Linked DNA regions of Homo sapiens: regions 1 and 3 are each linked to region 2. The links come from fine-mapping of genetic effects on gene expression. A gene starts in region 2. Each other region holds a variant in brackets. All regions are shown on one strand. Distances are between the middles of the regions. Region 1 has its middle 17 kb from the start of PIM3. Region 2 holds the start of ALG12 (ALG12 alpha-1,6-mannosyltransferase). Region 3 overlaps ZBED4 (zinc finger BED-type containing 4).

Region 1 (4,161 bases), 25 kb before region 2:
TGTAAAGGGGCAGAGTTTCCTGGGGGGACTGGTGAGCAGTGACACTGTAAAGGGGCAGAGTTTCCTGGGGGGCTGGTGAGCAGTGACACTGTAAAGGGGCGGAGTTTCCTGGGGGGCTGGTGAGCAGTGACACTGTAAAGGGGCGGAGTTTCCTGGGGGGCTGGTGAGCAGTGACACTGTAAAGGGGCGGAGTTTCCTGGGGGACCTGGTGATCAGTGACACTGTAAAGGGTCGTAGAGTTTCCTGGGGGACCTGGTGAGCAGTGACACTGTAAAGGGGCGTAGAGTTTCCTGGGGGACCTGGTGAGCAGTGACACTGTAAAGGGGCGTAGAGTTTCCTGGGGGACCTGGTGAGCAGTTGACACTGTAAAGGGGCGTAGAGTTTCCTGGGGGACCTGGTGAGCAGTGACACTGTAAAGGGGCGTAGAGTTTCCTGGGGGACCTGGTGAGCAGTGACACTGTAAAGGGGCGTAGAGTTTCCTGGGGGTACTGGTGAGCAGCGACACTGTAAAGGGGCGGAGTTTCCTGGGGGGCTGGTGAGCAGTGAGACTTTTTTCCGGGTCCCAACCCCCCAGGACATCATGCGGTCAGGAGCTCTGGGCTGGCGCAAGCGCACCCCAAGATGCACGGCCCGGCTGTCACTGTGACTGCGGTGGGCTCCTGGCGCTCTGGGTGCCTGGCACTGCAGCCTGAGGTCTGGGGTGGAGGCTGCCACCTGGTGTGCTGGTGATCCTGGGCCACCCAACACCTCCTCCACCAGCGGGGATTTCAGAGGCCCAGGTACCCGCATGGAGAGAACAGGTGCTCAGACCAAGGCCAGGTCCAGGAGGAGGCAGGACCCGGGAGGCCTGGACAACCCCAGGCCTGTCCTGAGCGTTGGAGGGCCGCTTCTGCCCACAGGCTTGGTCCCCAGGCCCAGCAGTGTGAGAGCCAGTCTTCCCAGGCCAGGACAGGGTTCAGGGAGGCAGCTCTGTGGGGCTGAGGCCTGGCCATCCTGTGTCACAACCTCCTCCATGGCCAGAGTGAGGTGACCCTGCTGGGGGTGACCAGGCCTGGGCCTGTGCTTGGCAAGTCTTTGGCTGATGGGACGTTAGACGCCAGGGGCTTCCCAGAGGGGCAGTGGGGGCGGGAGTGCAGCTGAGGATGAGCAGGAGCCTCCCCATCCCTTTCGGGCCCACACTGAGAACATGCAGTTCCGGCAGGGCGGCTTGTGGCCAGCCATGGCCTGGGTGACCCGCAGGTGGGGGATTCTGGCGGGTCTTGAAGTGGAAATGTCCATCCCTACCAGCCGGGCCTTGTTCCTCAGACTGCCAGGAGCCTGCCCGCCGGGTTGCTGCCCCTCTTGGGGGCCCAGGGCTAAAGGTGTCTAGCTTGGCAAGACTGTGAGTCTGGGCCTCCCTCCCTGGCGCTAAATGCATGCCAGCACTCACACGCCTATGCACACATGCCACCCCCGTGCGTCTGGCTGGCTGGGTGCTGCTCCCCGGGGTCCCCTCCTCCAGGAAGCCCTACGGCCTGCGTTCACCTTCTTCCTTCTGGGTAGCGTGACCTCCGATGACCCCGAAGGTGGGGATCCTTATCCGTGGAGAAAACCCGACCTTCCTGACATGCCTGGTGGGTGGGTTCTTCCCTAAAGGCCTGGGCGGCGGGGTGGGGGGGGCCTCGAGGGCCCCGAGTTCCGCTCTCAGCTCACGATGGGCTGCATGGCACCCAGAGCTGGCCTGGCTGGAAATGAGACAATAGCCAGGCCCACCCTGGAGGGCTGGTGTGGGGCGCTGGGGGGACCTGCAGGGGCCTGGAGGGCTGGGCACTCCTCAGCGACCAGGGGCCAGGCCTACCCAGGGCCTCCTGCGGGGGCTGTTCAGATGAGACGATCTTTACCACACGGCCCCACCCACTCACCCGCCTGTCAAGCAGCTTCGGGGGCTCTGCTCTGGGTTTGGAGGCTTGGGGAGCAAGTTCCTTAGAGTGATTTTTAGGAAAGAGTGATTTTCAGGCAAAGCGCTCAGAGCCACCAAGGCCATTCCATGAGGAGCTGGCATTCCAGTCTCCCTGGGA[C/T]CCTCTCGGCCTGTGGCTCGGTGGGCTGCAGAAACGCCGCCACCCAGGGGCCACCCCACCCCACCTGAGACAGCTGGGGGTCCACACCAGCCGCTGGGCATGGGCGAGGCCGACCCCGGGTCTGGAGGCTCCGGCGCCCACCACAGCGTGTCCTGTCTGCAAGGCCAGCCCTCCTTCCCCCGGGCCCCAGCCTACCTGGCCCCGGCTCACCTCCAGGCAGGCCCAGCCCCTGCGCAGGGAACAGCCTGGCTTTGTGTCCTCCCCAGACACTCCGGCGCTGCCTGTGGCTTCAGAAGTCACAGTACAACATTCGGACCCCTCCTCCCTCCCACATGCAGCCACCACTGACCTGGGAGGGCAGGACGGGAGCTGGGCACCTCCAGATCTTGGGTCAGCAGAGAGCAGCTGGGGGACTGGGAGGCCAGTTCACTCTCTCCCCCACTCACTCACCCCCTCCCTCCCTCACTCCCTCCCTCACTCACTCATTCACTCATCTGTTCACTCAATCACTCACTCATTCACTCAATCACTCATTCTCTCACTCACTCATTCATTTATTCATTCACTCACTCATTCACTCACTCGTTCACTCAATCACTCATTCACTCACTCATTCACTCATTCACTCAATCACTCATTCACTCACTCATTCTTTCACTCACTTGTTCACTCATTCACTCACTCGTTCACTCAATTACTCATTCACTCACTCACTCGTTCACTCAATCACTCATTCAATCACTTGTTCACTCAATCACTCATTCACTCACTCATTCACTCACTCACTCATTCACTCAGTCATTCACTCACTCAATCATTCACTCACTCACTCATTCACTCAATCACTCGTTCACTCAATCACTCGTTCACTCAATCACTCACTCACTCAATCACTCACTCACTCTGTCTCTCACACATTCATTCATTCATCATTTGATAAGTAGTTTTTCCTGAGAGCCCACTTGTGCCATGGCCCACAGTGGCGCCTGGATAAACAGTGGGCTCATTCATTCATTCACCATTAAATGAACCTGGGGAGCCCATGGATGTCAGCACTGCAGAAGGCTGGATGGGTGGACCCCTGGGTGAATGGACAGGTGGATGTGTGGACACAAGGGTTCCCTGACCTGAGACTCCAGCTGAGGTGTCCCCAAAGCAGCTGCTGCCCTGAGAGCAGCCCCGCAGCTGGGCGCCATGCCCTCTTCTTTCCTGGGACACAGGCACTCTGCCTTCCTCTCTGGTCCTGGCCACCGCGAGTGCTGACTCTTCAGAGCTGCTTCCACCCTGGCCAGCATGCAGGCTCCTTGGGGTCAGGAAGCATCTGGAGAGGTGTGGGGCCTGCTGGGATCATGGCCCACACTGCACTGAGCACCTGCCATAGGCCTGATGCAGTGTGGCTAATGGGTCCCCTTGGTGAGAGGCTGGGGTCACTGCCTTGTGTTAGGGGCCAGGCTGGCAGAGAACGGGCTGCAGGCCCTCAGCACGCCCATGGAGGAAGGCCATGGGCTGGACCCAGGGACCAGAATGTCGGGCCTGGAACTGGACGTGGGACCTAGCCATGGATGCAAGGCCTGCACGTGGATGTGGGACCCACACACCTTCGTGGTTCTGGGGCACATGGCAGCAGCAGATGCCAGGGAAGGGTCACCCTCTGCTCACAGGGCCGGGCCCTCCCCTTCCTCCAACTCCCAGTCCACCTGCCCCCTCACACCTGACCTTTGTGTCTGCCACAGAAAGGGTGTGATTTCCTGGGAGCCGCTCTGCGCAAAGGCAGGTCAGGGTGTGAACTGAGGCCCTGGCCCCCCCAGCCGTGTCCGCTCTTGGAATTGTCTACATCTCACCATTCACCCCGGCCTCCGAAAGTTCCATCAGCTCCACATTAAAACAGACCTGGAATCCAGCCAGGCCACTGCCTGTCCTCCCAACGGGCTGGGACTTTCACAGCCTGCTGCTCCCAGTCCCCACCTGTGCTCAGCAGCAGAGACCCTCTGAGCATCAGCCACAGCCTCTTGGTGCAGCCCCACCTGATGGGAGTGAACCCCAAGCCCTCACCGGGCCCAGAGGCCCTGGATTGGCCCCTGCCACGGCTCCTCCCAGCACCCTC
Region 2 (4,000 bases):
CGTGACTTCAGTTTCAATGCACACTTCTTCACAGAAGAGCCCTGTCCCTTGGCACCCATTGGGGCTCAAGGCCATGTGCCCAGCCTGATAGACACCCAGTGCCCTGCGCTCTCTGCAATAGCAGCCACAGAAGTTGTGGTGTGGTCACCTCTGTGCACACAGGGAGAAGCACCTGGACAGGTCAGTCAGGACAGACTCTCAGGTGAGTGGACTCAGCTGTGAACAACCTGAGTCTGTGAACCCCTGAATTAACAGCACAGCTGGGAAGACATACTCAGAGTTTTACGCTAAAGCATGAGGTTAGTGGTGAGGCTGCAGCCAGACGGTGCGAAGTGCTCCAAGCTGTGTTGGGGATGGGGGAGGCAGCCATCCGGCAGGGTCCCAGACCCTACAGAAAGCTGATGCACCCCAGGTCCCCTCTGTGCTTTTACCTCCCAAGAATCATGAGAAGAAGAGGGGAAGTGACGTAGGAGATGGGATTTCCCTGAGGAGAAACGCACCGAGACAGTCGGGACCGTAGGTTCCTGGAGAGCAGCACACTTTCAGTGTCTTCACACAAAACCACTCGAATAAGTCAGGATATTCGCTCTTCCTGAGGATGGAGGAAAACATTCACTGAATCCCAGCAGACACGGTTCTTTAAAACAAACATGCAGCTGAACGTAACATATGCTCTGGAGTATTGTAAGGTCCAGGAAACAAGAGTCTAGGTGTGGACAGAATCTTCTCCTTAATTTCCTGGTTTTGATCGCTGACTCTGGTGATAAAAAACGGTAATGCAGGGGTAAGGTGGGTGCGAGGCAGGTGGGAGCTCCCTACTGTTCCTGTACCTTTCTAAGTCTGAGGTTATTTCAAATTCTAAGTTGGAAAATAAAAAGTATCTTCTAAGAGGTTTTAAGGCACTCACAGCTGCAGCCACCAGGCCTCCAGGTGCTCCTCCTGCGCCTCTAGCATCTGATTGCATTCGAAGTCGCTGCTCTCGCACAGCCCCTCCAGGATCTCCAGCAGGCGAATCTCGCTGAAACACAGGCCCACACCGGCCCACCGTCAGCGCCTCCAAGGCAGTGAAGAAAAATCCGAACCAATACGCCAACCTGGGTGCAGGGGCCGGGGAGCCAGGACTCCGGGCACAGAGAATAAGGGGACCCCACTGTCAGGGGAAGCCAGGAGCGGTTCCCACAAGTGGGGCTGGTGTTCCAGTTTACATTTTGAAAAGCCACTGTCTGTTGAGGGGGTAGGGACCAGAGCAGAAGCTGGAAGGCCAGAGAGGGGCCAGCCATTAGTCCTCAGGGAGAAGCCGAGGTGACTCGGACGGGTGACTGGTGCCTCGGGGGCTGTTCTGTCTCCCTGTCATTAACACAGGCACCAAAGGCAGGACACGACTTCCCAGGACAGCGCCAGGCCAAGACCCACAGGGGTGCTCCAGGGCACCCACCTGGACTCGTACTTGGACAGCGTCTTTTCCTCCCAAGCCGTGTTCCCGCCGCCAAAGTTCTTCTTTGCGGTGTCCACCATCCCCTGCGAGGAGACAGTGCCCATAGTGCTTGGTACCACCTGACCCGGGTCCAGGGTGGGGGCGAGCCCAGGTCGAGGGTGAGGGGACTCCAGGCCCACGGTGGCGTCGACCCTGGTTCCACGGTGGGGGTGGATCCGGGTCAAGGGTGAGGGGGACTCCAGGACCACGGTGGAGGGACTCTGGATCGACGGTGAGGGGGATCCCGAATCCAGGGTGAGGGGGACCCCGGATCCAGGGTGAGGGCGACCCTGGGCCCAAGGTGGGGCGACCCCGGATGCAGGGTGAGGGGGACCCCGGGCCCAAGGTTGACGACCCCGCCCGGCCCCTTCCCACCTGGTTAAACTTGTCCACCAGCCCCCGGCACCGGTGGCAGGGCGTCGGCTTCTTGGCGGCCTCCGGCGCGGGCGGCAGCAGCAGCAGAAGCGGCAGGAGCCCCAGCGCGGCCCGGCGCGGCAGGCGCATGGCGGGTAGCGCTGCGGGAAGACGCAGCCGGAGCTCCAGGTCCTGCGGCCGTGCTGCTCCGGCCTCCCGGCCGCCCACCCGCTCCCAGCCGCGCCGGCCTGTCCCCCAGGCTACTTGACGGCGCCGGCGAGGCCCCGCCCCACCCGCCAGCCCCGCGCCGCTATTGGTTGATGGGACCCGCCCCGGCCTGATATGGCCCAATCCGAGTTCGCCACGAGAGGTGACCAATGGGAAGGCCCCGGATCAGCGGCCGCCAGGAGTCCGGGGGCGGGGCGTGCAGGTCCGACCCCGCCTCCCGCTCCCCGCCCCTCGCGCGCAGCCCGCGGCGGCCATCTTTACTCAGGGCACAGAGGGTCTCTGCGGCCGTAGCGGCCGGGGCTGCGGTAGCCACTTTAGATTTGGGCAAGGACTTTAGATTCGGGCTCTGTTCTGTTTCCGCCGTCCTGCTTCCTGCCGAGGCTGGCCCAGGCAGCCGCGCTTCGAAGGACGCCGCCGGGAGCTGCGGAGGTCAGTGCGCGCTGCCGCGACCGGGGCCTTCAGGCGGGCGCGCGGCGAGACCAGGGAGGAGGCGGGCGAGGGCGCGACCCGAGCTGGCGCTGGCGCTGGATTCCTGAGGCCTCACCGCGCATGTCCACGCGTCACAGCCCCGTGCTCCTTACCTGGGGCTGCACCCCTCACTTGGGGCCGGGCTCCTCACCTGGGGCTGGACCTGTCACCTGGGGGCCAGACCTCTCACCCGGGGGCCGGACCTCTCATCCGGGGGCCCGACCTCTCACCTGGGGCTGGACCTCTCACCTGGGGCCGGGCTCCTCACCTGGGGCCGGACCTCCCACCTGGGGGATGGGTTTTTCACCTGGGGGCTGGGGATCTGGGGTCCACTTAGGGTCTCTGGGGGCTGGGGATCTGCATTTCTACAGGCGCTTGAGGTGATGAACACTCGCTCATGTTCAGGAACCCCTGGTTTAAATTAGGGGAAATAAAACGTGCAGCGTCTGGATTTCAGAGAACTCCTGCCTGTGGAAGGAAGGAGTGCAGATAACACTGCACATTTAAAAAAAAAAAAAGTAACATCTGATTTGACCAGTTTCTTTTCTGTTTTTTTGAGACGGAGTCTCACTTTGTCGCCCAGGCTGGAGTGCAGTGGCGCGATCTCAGCTCACTGCAAGCTCCGCCTTCCAGGTTCCTGTGATTCTGCTGCCTCAGCCTCCTAAGTTGGGATTACAGGCACCCACCACCAGGTCCGGCTAATTTTTGTATTTTTAGTAGAGACGGGGTTTCACCATGTTGGCCAGGCTGGTCTCGAAGTCCTGACCTCAAGCGATCTGCCTGCCTCAGCCTCCCAAAGTGCTAGGGTTACAGGCGTGAGCCACCATGCTTAGCCTGATTTGATCAATTTCGGTAGAGGCCTTAAAATCTGGATTGATGGGGACAAGAGGGTCTTTGCAGGTCATTCCCTAATCTGAGATGCCATTGTTCTGTAAACCACCATTTTAAAGTGTCATGGCCTGGGCCCGTTTTAACCTGTGGGTGCTCTCGAAGCACCCGTCACTTAGATTAGCCACAGCTGCTGCCCAGCTGCCCAGCAGAGTGGGCTAGTGCAGGACAGTGTCCGTTCACCCTCGCCTGGTGGGGGGTTCGTCGTGGTTTTCGTGCTTGCTGGTGTTGACTTGGTCTTCCCGTGCTCCTGGCAGAGAATCCAGACTCACCCTTGGTCTTCTCATGCCCTCGAAAGTGAGCTGTGCTGGTCATCAGCAGAAGGCACACCTTGTTGGGTCCGAGGAGGTGCTGGGGGCCCGCCAGGAGTGTCAGAGTCAGCACGTAATGTTTTCACCCCACAGCTGAACTCTTCCTTGCTGGGGAACTCCCCTGGGTGGAGAGGTGTGGAGTGGGGTTGTGGGGGACTGCCAAGCAGCACTTGCTGTGTGCACCTCCCACATCTTGGCACGTAGATGCTCCCCGTTCCGTTTTATTTTTTATTTTTGTAGAAATGGGGTCTCATGATGTAGCCCAAGTTGGTCTTGA
Region 3 (4,161 bases), 38 kb after region 2:
CTAAATCACACATTTTAACCTCTACCGTCATGGCTCCATCCGCCTAAATATGTATAGAAAAAAACTGTATAATGGAAAACTGGAATCGAAAAACTTGTTCTCTGACTTCCTGCAATCCGTTTACAGGATGACAATACCCCCAAATTGCAAAATAAGCAAAAAATAGAGACATGAAAAAAAATGCAAGTGGCCTATTAATAAAGGATTGGGGAACATGAATTAAAACCTAGAATGGTATAAAGAGGTTGCCTCATCTAGAATTTATGCCCTCATCCTTCAAACAGTTCATGAGAGGTACTCACAGCTGCTATAATCAGCAAAGCTGAATTCCTTGAGATCTATTCATCCTTCCTTGCTAGAAGACCTGATACATGAAATACGAATTTGAAAAACTCTAGCTAACGTGTGAAATCATCAACCCAGACGAAAAGCTGAATAGGAAACGGACCACAGTGGCTCCTGCATCTGAGAAGGGAAAGGCGTCCTGTGGGTGAAAACCGCTTCCAGCCCATCCTCCTGTCACCCATTCAATGCCCCGTCCCCAAGTGATGCTGCGCCGTGCTGGAATGCAGCCAAGAGGAGACAGTCACGGGACCTGACAGCCAAGAACCGTGAGATTCCAGCTATGGTAAACGCTGGAAGTGAAGGAACATGGCGTTACAAAGACAGGAGAGAGCAGGGCAAGACGGAGAACAGGGGCAGGAGCTGTAAGGGTGTAACTGAGCCGAAGCTCGGAGGACGATGGAGTCATGTGGGGTAGGAGATGGAGCAGTTTACTAAGGAACTAAAACCAAGTAGCAACAAAAGCATGTTTTCAGTAATATGGCAGCATAAATATTCTATAATAAAACCAGACTCTAGAAAACCTCTAACAAACTTTTTTTGAAGAGACGGAGTTTTACTGTCACTTAGGCTGGAGTGCAGTGGCGTGACCACAGCTCAGTGAAGCCTCGACTTCCCAGGTGTGAGCCCTCCTCCCGACTCAGCCTCCCAAAGTGCTGGAGTTATATGCGCGAGCCAATGCGCCCACCACAAACTTACTTTTTAAAGTATTACTGGGCATGCCAGAAAGTGGGAGAACTCTTCAAGGGACACAGGGAGTGGCAAATGGGCAGGAGAGGTGCGCCATCCCTAGCCTGGTCAGCATGGGTCACCCCCACAGGGAGGAGCTGAACCCGACATTCCTCCACCATGCAGGAACCAAGAACTGAAGTCACCACATCATGTATTTTCTAAACCAGGGCATTTCTGAGAGTGAAAGGGAGCTATTAATAATACTGCTGGGGAAACAGGCTTAAGCCAAACCTATCTGTAGCAAAGCAAGATGTATGGTTGCCCTAAAAAGTGTTCCAAGGTTAATAAAAACTGCTAGCTCCCACCAGAAATAAATGCAGGTTCTTTCTGAAAAGCATTCCCAATAAGTTCTACAAAGTACAGCCAGATAAAAAAGAAAAATAAAAAATTAACACAGGCCAGGCACAGTGGCTCATGCCTGTAACCCTAGTACTTGGGAGGCTGAGGTGGGAGGATCGCTTGAAACCACAAGTTTGAGATCAGCCTGGGCAAAAAAACAAGACCCTGTTCTCTACAAAACAAAAAACAAAACAAACAAACAAAAAATGCCAAGTATGGTGAGCCTGTAGTCCCAAGCTACTCAGGAACTCAGGAGGCTGAGATGGGACGATCACTTGAGGGCAGGAGTTTGAAGACTAGCCTGAATAATAGTGAAACTCTGTCTTTACAAACAAAATTAGCCAGGTGCGGTGGTGCGTGCCTGTATCTCAGCTGCTTGGAAGGCTGAGGAGACATGATGATTTGAACCCAAAAGTTTGAGGCTGTGGTGAGCTATCATTGTGCCACTGCACTCCAGCCTGGCCAACAGTGAGATCCTATCTCAAAAAAACAGCAACTGTATTTCTACAGATGAATTAGAAAATGAAAAACAAATTTTTTTGAGACGGATCACTCTGTCGCCCAGGCTGCAGTGTGCAGCGGCACGATCTCAGTTCACCGCAACCTCCGCTTCCTGGGTTCAAGTGCTTCTCCTGCCTCAGCCTCCCAAGTAGCTGGGATTACAGGCGTGTGCCATGACACCCGGCTAATTCCTTTTGTATTTTTAGTAGAGACGGGGTTTCGCCATGTTGGCCAGGCTGGTCTTGAACTCCTGACCTCACGTGATCCACCTGCCTCAGCCTCCC[G/A]AAGTGCTGGGTTTACAGGCCTGAGCCACTGCGCCTGGCCAGAAAATGAAACATTTTTAAATTCCACATATAATGTCCAAAAGCATGCATGAAAGCATGAAATAAGATAAAATTTTTAAAATATGCTTGTTTTAGTATACAGGTACACAAGTATACAGGTCTTAAAAAGAAGACCTGTATACTGAAAGCTGCAAAACACTGCTGAAATTAAAGGCTTTTAAACAAATGGAGAAATATACCAAGTTCATGGATTAGAAAACTCAATGTTGACATCAGTATTTTCCCAAATTGACCTATAAATTCAATATGATCCCAGTCAAAATTCCAAAACGCTTTTTGCAGTAGCTGATAAACAGAAGTCTAAAATTGATATGGGAATACAAAGAATCAGGAATAAATAAAATTATTTTGGAAAGAAAGAACAAAGCTGGACTCACAGTCACTTCCACTTCTAGCCATGATGAACAAAACAAAGGAAACCAGGTTGACCTCAGACAACTCATAAGCCAGACGCCGTGCACGAAACGACGTTTTCAGACGCTGAGAGAGAAGAGAAAGCACAGGACAGTGATCACAGAAGTGTGAAAGCTAAAGAGGGAGCCCCACCTGCCCTCGCTCACGGCGGGGCTTCCAGGCTTCCAGGCTGCGGGGCGGGGAGTCGGAACTTGGCAGAGCCCGGTGGTCTCGAGCATGTCCCGAGCGCGGGAGAGGAGGGAGCTACGCAGACCTGCGGAGGTTCCTCGTGTCTTTGGCTGAATACTGATCTGCATCTGCATTTGAGGAAACCACCCTCAGAGAACCAAAGGGGAAAAGAACTGCCAGGGCTCCCTGGAGGCTGGGAACAGCTTGTGTTTCCACCACCAAGAGTGAACAGCAAGCAGGGTCAGAAGGGTCCGGACTGAACAGTGGGCTTCACAACAACGGCCGCTCTTTTAAGCCGTGTTAGGAGCCACCCGAACACAGCTTAAACGCCAGCCTCAAGAGGAGGAAACGGTCTATGATTAACTTTACTACAACCTAAAACAAGTCTCAACAGCATTTAAAGGAATATAACAAAATCCTGCACCCAATAAAGTAAAATACAAAATGGCTGACAAAAACAACCAGACCTGCGATGAAGCGGGAGAAAACCACCTCTGACCAGGAGAAAAACCAACCAATAGAAACAGGCCCAGACACTGACCAGGAGAAAAACCAACCAATAGAAACAGGCCCAGACACTGACCAGGAGAAAAACCAACCAATAGAAACAGGCCCAGACACTGACCAGGAGAAAAACCAACCAATAGAAACACGCCCAGACACTGACCAGGAGAAAAACCAACCAATAGAAACACGCCCAGACACTGACCAGGAGAAAAACCAACCAATAGAAACAGGCCCAGACACTGACCAGGAGAAAAACCAACCAATAGAAACACGCCCAGACACTGACCAGGAGAAAAACCAACCAATAGAAACACGCCCAGACACTGACCAGGAGAAAAACCAACCAATAGAAACACGCCCAGACACTGACCAGGAGAAAAACCAACCAATAAAAACAGGCCCGGACATAAGACAAATAATAAAATTAGTGGACAAGGACATGAAAACAGCTATTGTAAGAGCGGATATAGTGGTGTGTGCCTGGGCAACATGGCAAAACATCGTCTCTGCAAAAAAATACAAAAATTAGGCTGGGTTTGGTGGCTCACACCTGTAATCGCAGCACTTCGGGAGGATGAGGCAGACGGATCAACCGAGCTCAGGAGGTTGAGACCAGCTTGGCCAATATGGCGAAACCTGGTCTCTACTAAAAATACAAAAAAATTAGCGCGGCGTGGTGGCGCGTGCCTGTAATCCCAGCTACTCGGGAGGCTGAGGCAGGAGAATCGCTTGAACCCGGGAGGCGCAAGTTACAGTGAGCCGAGATTGCGCCACTTCACTCCTGTTTTTTTTTGTTTTTTGTTTTTTTTTTGAG

What was found. PIP is the estimated chance that this variant, and not a neighbour inherited with it, causes the effect. A credible set is the group of variants that fine-mapping cannot tell apart.
Region 1: its variant is the best candidate, but not a certain one, in a credible set for the expression of ALG12 in whole blood (TOPMed, PIP 0.53).
Region 3: its variant is the best candidate, but not a certain one, in a credible set for the expression of ALG12 in whole blood (INTERVAL, PIP 0.54).

The regions. Positions count from the first base shown.
Region 1 is chr22:49,941,270-49,945,430 of GRCh38, reverse strand. No RefSeq gene overlaps it. Among named protein-coding and RNA genes, the nearest start is that of PIM3, 17 kb to the left of the region's middle. RefSeq lists a silencer at 1,146-1,325 and enhancers at 1,274-1,999, 2,000-2,726. The variant C/T (reference allele first, on the strand shown) is at 2,058.
Region 2 is chr22:49,916,748-49,920,747 of GRCh38, reverse strand. ALG12 (ALG12 alpha-1,6-mannosyltransferase) reads left to right here and starts at 2,310. Exons shown (of 10, transcript NM_024105.4): 1 at 2,310-2,485. It overlaps CRELD2 (CRELD disulfide isomerase 2), which reads right to left and starts at 2,114. Exons shown (of 10, transcript NM_024324.5): 1 at 1,850-2,114; 2 at 1,436-1,518; 3 at 908-1,018; 4 at 501-592. The coding sequence starts at 1,978. RefSeq lists silencers at 1,911-2,410, 2,521-2,720.
Region 3 is chr22:49,879,141-49,883,301 of GRCh38, reverse strand. The region is part of intron 1 of ZBED4 (zinc finger BED-type containing 4); the gene reads right to left. It also overlaps a transcript of ALG12 not described here. Among named protein-coding and RNA genes, the nearest start is that of ZBED4, 27 kb to the right of the region's middle. RefSeq lists an enhancer at 1,313-1,542. The variant G/A (reference allele first, on the strand shown) is at 2,199.